2 separate regions of the Homo sapiens genome follow, and region 2 is linked to region 1. Evidence: fine-mapped expression QTL. A gene starts in region 1. The other region holds a variant in brackets. All regions are shown on one strand. Distances are between the middles of the regions. Region 1 holds the start of GRN (granulin precursor). Region 2 has its middle 15 kb from the start of RUNDC3A-AS1.

The links.
Region 2: its variant is fine-mapped to the expression of GRN in whole blood (INTERVAL, PIP above 0.99).

The regions. Positions count from the first base shown.
Region 1 is chr17:44,342,752-44,348,128 of GRCh38, forward strand. GRN (granulin precursor) reads left to right here and starts at 2,551. Exons shown (of 13, transcript NM_002087.4): 1 at 2,551-2,583. RefSeq lists enhancers at 597-1,522, 2,674-2,823.
Region 2 is chr17:44,290,972-44,296,348 of GRCh38, forward strand. It overlaps the pseudogene RN7SL507P. Among named protein-coding and RNA genes, the nearest start is that of RUNDC3A-AS1, 15 kb to the right of the region's middle. The variant GCA/G (reference allele first, on the strand shown) is at 2,178.

The sequences.
Region 1 (5,377 bases):
AGGACATAAGGCTGCCTTCTGTGGTGATAAAAATGGTCTTAAACTGATTGTAATGATGCTGCATAACTCTCTTAAGACACTAAAAACCATTGAGTTGTACACTTTAATTTTTTTGTGTTGGCGGGGGTGGATGGAGTCTCGCTCTGTTGTCCAGGCTGGAATGCAGTGGCACGATCTCGGTTTACTGCAACCTCTGCATCCCGGGTTCAAGCGATTCTCCTGCCTCGGCCTCCTGAGTAGGGAATTACAGACCTCGTTATCGTGGCACCTTACCCTTCTGATGTTAAAAAAAAAAAAAAAAAGAGCGAGAGAGAGAGAGAGAAACATTTGTGAAGTAGGTTGTTGAGTCTCAGCACTATTGACCTTTTGGGCAGGATACTTCTTTGTTGTGGGGGATTGTTCTGTGTGTCGTGTGATGTTTAGTGGGATTGCTGGCCCTTACCTACCAGATGCCAGTGTCCCTCCACCCTGAGTTGTGACAACCCAGATTGTCTCCAGACACTCCTAAATGTCCCTGGCCGGCAAAATTGCCGCTGCTCAAGAATCACGGCTTTGACGATTAGACTTTGTGATATTTGTTTCAGTCTGTTTAGGTTTTTTTTCTTCTACCTGTATTTTTTTCTGGTTCTGGGTGGTTGTAATTAGTAGGTTATTGATCGATTCACCTAACATTTCATGAAAGTTTCATGTGTGTGTGTGTTTCAATAGAAGCATAAACTATACTCCCTAGTCTCAAGATACACAGGAAGGAAAATAAGCACAAATGTGTCACCAGGGCACAGACTAGTACTAGGTCCTCAGCAGGCCAGGTGTCTTATCCGCTGTCTGGGTCTGCTCTAGCTCCAGGCTTAGAACCCCTGCCACACGACTCCACAGCTCGGTTGGCACCCTTTCCCTCCTCCGACTTCTGCTGCCTCGAGCTTGGTTAGCCATCCCCCTGCCCCTGCCTCATCCTCAGCTCCAGTTCCTTGCTCAGGCTGCAGCAGTCTCCATCCCCTGTGCAGACACTGCCGTTCCTCCACGGCCCAGTATCAGGCTTTCCCTGGGCCTCTCCTCTCTCCTGGCCCATCTCCCATCATCCATCTCTGCCTGGCCCAGGCCCTTTGGCACCAAGCAGGCTGACTCTTGTCACTGGCTAATCTGTTCTGTGGTACATTTTCTCTCCTCACCCTCCCATATCAATTCCTCGAAGGCAGGGCCGATCTGGAGACTAGGAAGCCACTTCTCTTTCGACAGCCCCCACCACAGCCCAGCCCGTGCCAGGCACCCAGCAGCTCCTGAAGCCCACTGGCATTGAACATGGCATTCAATCCCTGCCAAGCCTGCCCTTCCCATCTGGTTTCCCAGGGCTCTTCCCAACACCTCCTCCTCCACCTGCCAGTTAAAATCTTCCCAGACTCAGCTCAAGGAGATGCTCCTAAGGTGGAATGAAATCTCTTCTTCCCCACCTGGAGACAATCTACTTCCTCTCCCTACACCTGGCAACTGGCGCACAACCTTGTATCTTAAATTAGATTCAGCCTGAGACTGTCTCCCACCAATCCCTGCTCCCTGTCCTGCTGAGCACCTTGAGGAAAGGGCTTTGGGGCTGTTTATCTTTGTCCTGGAAACCATCCTTCAACTCACTCTGGGGCCTGCCTAGCATGTCAACCGAGTTTGGAGAATAGGGCAGAATAGGGCAGGACAGGACAGGACAAGACAGGGCAGGATAGGATAGGAGCGAGCCAGCTCAGTAGCTCACATTTGTAATCCCAGCGCCTTGGGGGGCTGCGGTAGGAGAATCGCTTTGGGAGCAGGAGTTGCAGGCCGCAGTGAGCTATGATCAGCTTGGGCGACTGAGCGAGACCCTGTCTCTAAAACAAACACACAAGTCCGGGCGCGGTGGCTCATGCCTGTAATCTTAGCACTTTGGGAGGCCGAGGTGGGCGGATCACGAGGTCAAGAAATCGAGACCATCCTGGCCAACATGGTGAAACCCCGTCTCTACTAAAAATACAAAAATTAGCTGGGCGTGGTGGTGCGCGCCTGTAGTCCCAGCTACTCGGGAGGCTGAGGCAGGAGAATCGCTTGAACCCGGGAGGCAGAGGTTGCAGTGAGCCGAGATCGTGCCACTGCACTCCAGCCTGGCGACAGAGTGAGACTCCGTCTCAGAACAAACAAACAAAAGGATAGAAAGGCGAGCACAAATATTCCCAATTCATAACACTCCCTCGCACTGTCAATGCCCCAGACACGCGCTATCATCTCTAGCAAACTCCCCCAGGCGCCTGCAGGATGGGTTAAGGAAGGCGACGAGCACCAGCTGCCCTGCTGAGGCTGTCCCGACGTCACATGATTCTCCAATCACATGATCCCTAGAAATGGGGTGTGGGGCGAGAGGAAGCAGGGAGGAGAGTGATTTGAGTAGAAAAGAAACACAGCATTCCAGGCTGGCCCCACCTCTATATTGATAAGTAGCCAATGGGAGCGGGTAGCCCTGATCCCTGGCCAATGGAAACTGAGGTAGGCGGGTCATCGCGCTGGGGTCTGTAGTCTGAGCGCTACCCGGTTGCTGCTGCCCAAGGACCGCGGAGTCGGACGCAGGTAGGAGAGCGGCCGCGCAGACCTCTCGCCTGCTCCTGCCCAGGGGCCCGCCAGGGCCATGTGAGCTTGAGGTTCCCCTGGAGTCTCAGCCGGAGACAACAGAAGAACCGCTTACTGAAACTCCTTGGGGGTTCTGATACACTAGGGGGAGTTTTATGGGAAAGAGGAAGCAGTAATTGCAGTGACGCCCCGTTAGAAGGGGCTTTCTACCTCCCCAGCATTCCCCCAAAGCAGGGACCACACCATTCTTGACCCAGCTCCACCCCTGTCGGTAGGTGCTGGCTTCTTCCCCTCTCCTGGTGGTGGTGGGTGGTTCCCGCGGCGGCCTGGAGCCGGAGGGGCGCGCGACCCTGGGCTGGGAGCTCCGAGGGCCTGGGAACGAGACCTGAGACCTTGGCTTCTCGAAGGTAGTAGGGACTTGGGAGTGGTGACTGAACCTGGTCTGGCTCCTCCTTACTTCCTCTTGTTGCGGGTGGGACGAGCTAGCTTCCGCCTCTCCCAGCCACTTTTTCCTGCTCATTTGCAGCTAGGTTGGCTCCCCTTTTGGGAATTTCCTCTCCCCTTGGCACTCGGAGTTGGGGGGTGCCACCTAGTGGAAGATAACGGAGCTAGGGTCTTGAAGAGGCTGCTGTCCCCTCTGGCTGTTTTGGCGGTGTAGGGTGGCATGAGAGACTGCGACTCGCCTCCTCATCCCTGTTTCTGTATGCGAGTGCTTGTATTCAGTAGAAGCATACACTATACTCCCTCAATTTAGGGTAAACAGGAGGGGCCACATGCACAGGTAATTCACCAGGGAGCCGAACACTCCTGTGCAGACAGACTCCCCTTCCCAGCAAGCCATGGCAGCGGACAGCCTGCTGAGAACACCCAGGAAGCAGGCGGTGCCAGCTGCAGGTGCTTTGCCTGGGAGCTGTGGGGCTGAGGAGAGGGTCCACTGTCCAGGACCAGTGAACTTCATCCTTATCTGTCCAGGAGGTGGCCTCTTGGGGATGCTGAGTTAGGGGAGGGGCACTTGAGGAAAGCCAGGTGGAGCAGAGAGGATGTGAGTGACTGGGTGGGTGAGATTTCCTGCCCCTCCCCCCGCAGTGGTATCCACACCTAGACTCGTGGGGTAACTGAGGCACAGACAGAGAGCAACTTCTCAGGCCCTCACAGTTGGCAATTCTAGGATTAGGACCCAAGTGCGATTTTCAGGCAGTCCCTGTACCCTGTTTCTGTTGTACCTGTTGCACCATTCCCAGGCACTGCCCATCGTGCCACTAGTGATATGAACCCAGGTCCAATACGCTCTGGGGCCATCAAAGCCTGACGTCACCATGACCTGATGTGTGACGTGTTATAGGTGTCCCTTGGTATCTTCACGGAACTGGTTCCAGGACCCCAAAATCTGTGGGTGCTCAAGCCCCTGAGATAAAATGGTGTAATATTTGCATATAACCTATACATACTTTAAATCATTTCTAGATTACTTATACCTAATACAATGGAAATGACATGTCGGCTGGGCGTGGTGGCTCATGCCTGTAATCCCACCACTTTGGGAGGCCGTGGCAGGTGGATCACCTGAGGTCTGGAGTTTGAGACCAGCCTGACCAACATGGTGAAACCCCCATCTCTACTAAAAATACAAAAATTAGCCAGGTGTGGTAGCGCACACCTATAATCCCACCTACTTGGGAGGCTGAGGCAGGAGAATTGCTTGAACCTGGGAGGCGGAGTTCGCAGTAAGCTGAGATCGCGCCACTGTACTACAGCCTGGGTGACAGAGCAGGACTCCATCTCAAAAAAAAAAGAGAAAAAGAAAAAGAAATGCCATGTAAATAGTTGTGATCCTGAATTGTTTAGGGAATAATAAGAAAGAACTATCTGTAGATGTTCAGTATAGATGCACCCATCGTAAGCCTAACTACATTGTATAACTCAGCAACGATGTAACATTTTCAGGGGTTTTTTTGTTTTGTTTTTTGAGACAGAATCTCAGTCTCACTCTGTCACCCAGGCTGGAGTATGTTGGCGTGATCTCTGCTCACTGCAACCTCCACCTCCTGGGCTCAAGCGATTCTCCTGCCTCAGCCTCTTGAGTAGCTGGGATTGCAGGTGTGCGCTACCACGCATGGCTAATTTTTGTATTTTTAATAGAGATGGGGTTTTACCACGTTGGTCAGGCTGGTCTTGAACTCCTGACCTTGGGATCCGCCCACCTGGGCCTCCCAAAGTGCTGGGATTACAGGCGTTAGCCACCGCGCCCAATATATTTTGATCCCTGGTTGGATATGGAGGGCTGACTGTACTTAACATCTCTAAGCTTCAGTTTCCTCCTTTAAAATAAAGGTGTGGCTGGGTGTGGTGGTTCAAGCCTGTAATCCCAGCACTTAGGGAGGCTGAGGTGGGTGGATCAGCTGAGGTCAGGAGTTCAAGACCAGCCTGACCAATATGGTGAAACCCCCTCTCTGCTAAAAATACAAAAATTAGCCAGGCGTGGTGGCGAGCGCCTGTAGTCCCAGCTACTTGCTTGAACTTGGGAGGCAGAGGTTGCAGTGAGCTGAGATCGTGCCACTGAACTCGAGCATGGGCAACAGAGCAAGACTGTCTCAAAAAAAAAAAAAAAAAGGGGGTGAGCAGACGTGGTGGCACGCTCCCACAGTCCCAGCTACTTAGTAGGAGGCCAAGGTTGGAGGATTGCTTGATCCCAGGAGTCTGAGTCCAGCCTGGGCAACATGGCAATACCTCATCTCTAAAAATAAAATAAAAGTAAAGGTATTAATTACTACTTTGGATGGTTGTTGCAAAGAAA
Region 2 (5,377 bases), 52 kb before region 1:
TCACTCCACCTTAGGCAACCTGTTGGTCCCCCACTCCTGGGAGGTCACTATATCGATGCTGAACTTAGTGTGGACACCCGATCTGCATAGCGCACTACAGTCCAGGACGGGCCTCAAGCAATCCTCCTGCTTCAGCCTCCCAAGTAGCTGGGACTATAGGCTCACATCACCTCACCTGGCTCAATAAGCATCTGAAAAAATAGCCAATCTCATTAATATGCATGAATATACCAACTACAGTAAAATGTCTAACAACAATATTCAAAGTCAGGGACAGAAGAAATGGAAGTATACTGTTATAAGTTTCCTTTGTAACATCTTTATTGAAGTATAATTCACATGCCATAAAATTCACCCATTTAAAGTGCACAATTCAGTGGCTTTTATTACTCCCCGAGTTCTACAACCACTACATTCTAAGTTTAGAGTATTTCCATCACTCCAAAAAGAAATTCCATGCCCATCAGCCATCACTCCTCATTCCTCCCTCCAGCCCTAGGCAACCATTAATATTGTTTCTGTCTCTATAGATTTGCCTATTCTAGACATTTCATGTAAATAAAATCATACAATATAGGCTGGGCGCTGTGGGTCATGCCTGTAATCCCAGCACTTTGGGAGGCTGAGGTGAGCAGATCACCTGCGGTCAGGAGTTCGAGACCAGGCTGGCCAACATGGTGAAACCCGTCTCTACTAAAAATACAAAAATTAGCTGGGCATAGTGATAGGAGCCTGTACTTCCAGCTACTTGGGAGGCTGAGGCAGGAGAATCGCTTGAACCTGGGAGGCGGACATTACAGTGAGCAGAGACTGTGCCACTGCACTCCAGCCTGGGCAACAAGAACAAAACTCCATCTCAAAAAAAAAAAAAAAAATCATACAATATAGGTTTTTTGGTGGCTGGCTTCTTTCACTAACCATGATATTTTCAAGGTCATCCATGTTGTAGCATGTATCAGTATTTCATTCCTTTTTATTGCTGAATAATATTCCATTGTATGCATATAATACATTTTGTTGGTCCATTCATCAGCTGATGGACTTTTGGGTTGTCTCCACTTTTTGGCTATGGTGAATGATGCTGCTTCAGGGGGTATTCCTGATGGGTCTGAGCCCCTGGTTTCCATATCCATTCAGATCATGGTTTTGCTGCAGTTGCCCATTCAGTTATCATCACTCATGGAGTCAACACGAGGTGACCAGTCAATCCCCTGAGGTCTAGATTTATTCTTTCTGCACCCATTATATAGCAGCAACCCTGTCTCCTCATGATAATCAGGGTTGATTACCCTGCCAGGAGAGTAGCTTCTTTTTATTTTGTCTGCTGATCTACTGGCCCGAGGAGCTCAAAACGATCATAAGGCAGCCATAGCTTCAGTTTTAGTGGAATCCTTACTGAGTGGCCTGGTAGAAGCATTCCCTTCACCTACCCTTGGGAATCAGGATCACCAATCATGATCACTAGTCTACCAAAGTATAAAGTGGCAGGAGGTAAAGCTGGACACCGTGGTGCACACCTGTAGTCCCAGCTACTCCGGAGGCTGAGACAGGAGGATCACTTGAGCCCAGGAGTTCAAGACTGTTTTGTGTGATAATCCTGCTGGTAAATAGCCACTGCAGTTCAGCCTGGGCAACACAGCAAGCAGCTGTCCCTCTCTATTTTTTTTTTTTTAAAAGGCAGGGCTCAGTGGCTCATGCCTATGATCCCAGCACTTTGGGAGGCCAAGGGAGGAGGATTGTTTGATACCAGGAGTTTAAAACCAGCCTGTGCACCATAGTGAGACCTTGTCTCTACAAAATTAAAAAAAAAAAAAAAAAGTAGTGTGGGTGAGAAACATATATTTCCCAGTGGGTTCCTGGGAAGGATGGTGAGGGGGATCACTCCAACTTCTATTCCTAGGTTCCTGGAACCATGTATTCTAGCTATAGCAGACACAGCACCATATAATGACCATTAGTTCCAAGTAGATACTGTAGCTTTTTTTTTTTGAGACAGAATCTTGCTCTGCCACCCAGGCTGGAGTGCAATGGCGCAATCTCAGGTCACTGCAAGCTCTGTCTCCCGGGTGCGGTGGCTCATACCTATAATCCCAGCACTTTGGGAGGCCAAGGCAGGAAGCTCGCTTGAGCCCAGGAGTTCGAGACCAGCCTGGGCAACATAGCAAAACCCTGTCTCT[GCA/G]CACACACACACACACACACACACACACACACACACACACAATTAGCCAGACACGGTGGTGTGTGCCTGTTGTCCCAGCTAGTTGGGAGGCTGAGGTGGGAGGATCATCTGAGCCCAGGGAGGTCAAGGCTGCAGTGAACCATGATCACTCCATTGCACTCCTGGGCAACAGAGCGAGGTCCTGTCTCAAAAATAAATAAATAAATAAAAATAAAAAGAAGCTGAAGGACATCTACTGACCAGGCTATCTTGTCCGCCCGGTTGCTTAGTACCCCTTCTGCAAAGGATGCTCACCGTGGGGTACCAATAGAGACATAGTGCAAACTTTGTGCTCACTCCAGCAAATCCATCCATTTGTCCTCCCCTCACAAAAACCCGTCTCAGATCTTCCAGCCTTGCTCCTTCTAGGTCTCTGACCTATCAGACAAGACTCTGGCCTCTACCTAGTAATCTGTGTATATCCTTAGCTCAAAGCCCTTTTCCTTCCACCTTATGTTGCTGACCAGGTGCTAATGTCAGCAGCTCTGTCATCAAGGGGGTTTCCCCTCACCACTGCCTTTCAGGGCCACCCTTGACTGTGGCTGTGATGTGGCTGAAGTTCATTTTCAGTCCACACCAACCTAGGAAGCCATTTTATCTGTAAATTAGATCTGGGGCTTTTTTTCCTCCTCTGTCAACTGGTGATAAAGAACTCCCCATGAGGCCAAAGGTGTGAGTTGAGGGAGAGACATAGCTGCAACAGGGATACGTGCCCTGGGGGTCTGGCTGCCTGTTCATGTAACTTACTTGTGCGCTTTAGGCTGAGTAGTCCTCATCTGGAATGCACCATTTCCATGGTAGGATGGATTATTGCTGCACCTGCTCAACTGTGTCACTTGGTGTATCTGACAGTTCCCGCTTCGCAATGGGCAGCTCTGATCACATCACCATACCTGTCCAATGGTCAGGTCTCTGCAGCACAACCGAAGACTTCTTTTTTTGAGACAGAGACTTGTTCTCTTACCCAGGCTGGAGTGCAGTGGCACAATCTCGGCTCACTGCAACCTCCACTTCCTGGGTTCACGCCATTCTCGTGCCTCAGCCTCCCGAGTAGCTGGGACTACAAGCGTGCACCACCACACCTGACTAATTTTTGTATTTTTAGTAGACAGGGTTTCACCATGTTGGCCAGGCTGGTCTCGAACTCCTGACCTCAGGTGATCCCTTGACCTCCCAAAGTGCTGGCATTACAGGTGTGAGCCGATGCACCCGGCCAGAAGATTATTTTTTAAAACCGGAACAGTCCTCTGCTGTAGATGGCATGGCCTTGCTCCAGAACCTTCTGGGCTTGCCAGAGACTCCCCAAAGCATCCTATGAATCATAGATAGATGGCATCTGCTAGGCTATATGAGCCCAAGTGGCAGGGAACTTTGCATTTTGGCCTGGACTGAAAAAAACCTCTCTTGTTGTGGGCCCCACTCAAAACCAGCAGCCTTCGGAGTTCCCTGAAAATTAGTTGGAGCAGTATTTCCAAGTGTGGCATGTGCCATCTCCCATATCTGAAGGGGCTTGCCAGGCTTTGTGCATCTTTCCTAGGGATAGGAGACACATGGTGGTGCCAGTTCACTGGACTCTGACAAATTTTGCAAAGATCCTTGAGTCTTTGTAGGATTTATCCTCCAACCTCTGGCAAGCACGTGCCTTGCCACTTTCTGTTCACCAGGTTCCATTAGCTCAATGTCGTCGGTACAATGGATTGTGTGATGTTGTGTGGAATGCCAAGATGATCAAGGTTTCTGCTCTATTATGACAGAAAGCAGGACAGTTAACATAGCCCTGGGGTAAGACTGTGGATGTGGACTTTTGTCTGTCCTCAGGGAAAGGAATCGGCTTTTTTTTTTGAGACTGAGTCTCGCTATGTTGCCCCCGCTAGAGTACAGTGGCTCGATCTCGGCTCACTGCAACCTCCCTCTCCCGGGTTCAAGTGATTCTCGTGCCTCAGTCTCCTGAGTAGCTGGGATTACAGGTACCCACCACCACGTCTGGCTAATTCCTGTATTTTTAGTAGAGACAGGGTTTCACCATCTTGGTCAGGCTGGTCTCAAACTCCTGACTTCAAGTGATCTGCCTGCCTTGGCCTCCCAAAGTGCTGGTATTACAGGCGTGAGCCACCGAGCCTGGCAGGAATCTGCTTCTAATCTTACTTCCTTCAACAAATTAACAGTCATGGACTAAATGGCAGGGACTCTGTTGATCTGTTCTAAGAAAGCTAACACATCTGGCACAGCACTCAATCAGGGCGCCACTTGGTTATGTGCACCCTCATCTACAATGATCCATCTGGTTTTTGCAAGAGCCAGATTGATGAATTAAATGGGGATATCCTGGGAACCACCACTTTTATATCCTTTGTGAGTGACTCCAACCACTGCCATTCCACCTGGGCTGGGGCATTGCTTCTGATTAACTCTCTTGGGAGGGAGATGAGGAAGCAATTTCTAATTGGCCTTTCCTACCCTAATGACTCTTATTTCATTCTTTTTTTTTTTGGAGATGGTTTCATTATGTCACACAGGGTGGAGTGCAGTGGTACAATCTCAGCTCACTGCAATCTTGACCTCCCTGGCTTAACCAATCCTCCCACCTCAGTGTCCTGAGTAGCTGGGACTACAGGAGTGTGCCACGATACCCAGCTAATTTAAAAAAATTTTTTTGTAGAGATGAGGTTTCACTATTTTGCCCAGGCTGCTCTCAAACTCCTGGGCTCAAGTGATCCTCCCACCTTGGCCTCCACACTTGGGATTACAGGTGTGGTAATGGCTCTTATTTCAGGAAACCAACGCGAGAGATCTGCTATCTACTAAGTACCTCTATTCCACTATGTATTCAGGGGCCAGGGAAATAACCATCAAGCAGACTGATGGGCCAGATCTCCTTTCATCACCTGGCCTCCATATGCCCCACACTAATACATGCCCATGATGGCATTTTGGTTCCTTAATATTAGTGTCAGTTCCAACTCTGTATCCAAAAGCCTTGAAAGATCTGAGTATTTCCCTTTCCCCAGGATGCAGTTGCTCTGATAAGCAGCTGTAAGTACCTTTGGGGGAAGAATAGGATAATTACCATGATATAAACTTGCCATGGCATTGTAGGATTCTTCCTGAAGGGAACTGGCCCCCACTTCAATGAAAGGGCTCTATATTTGGCCACGTTTG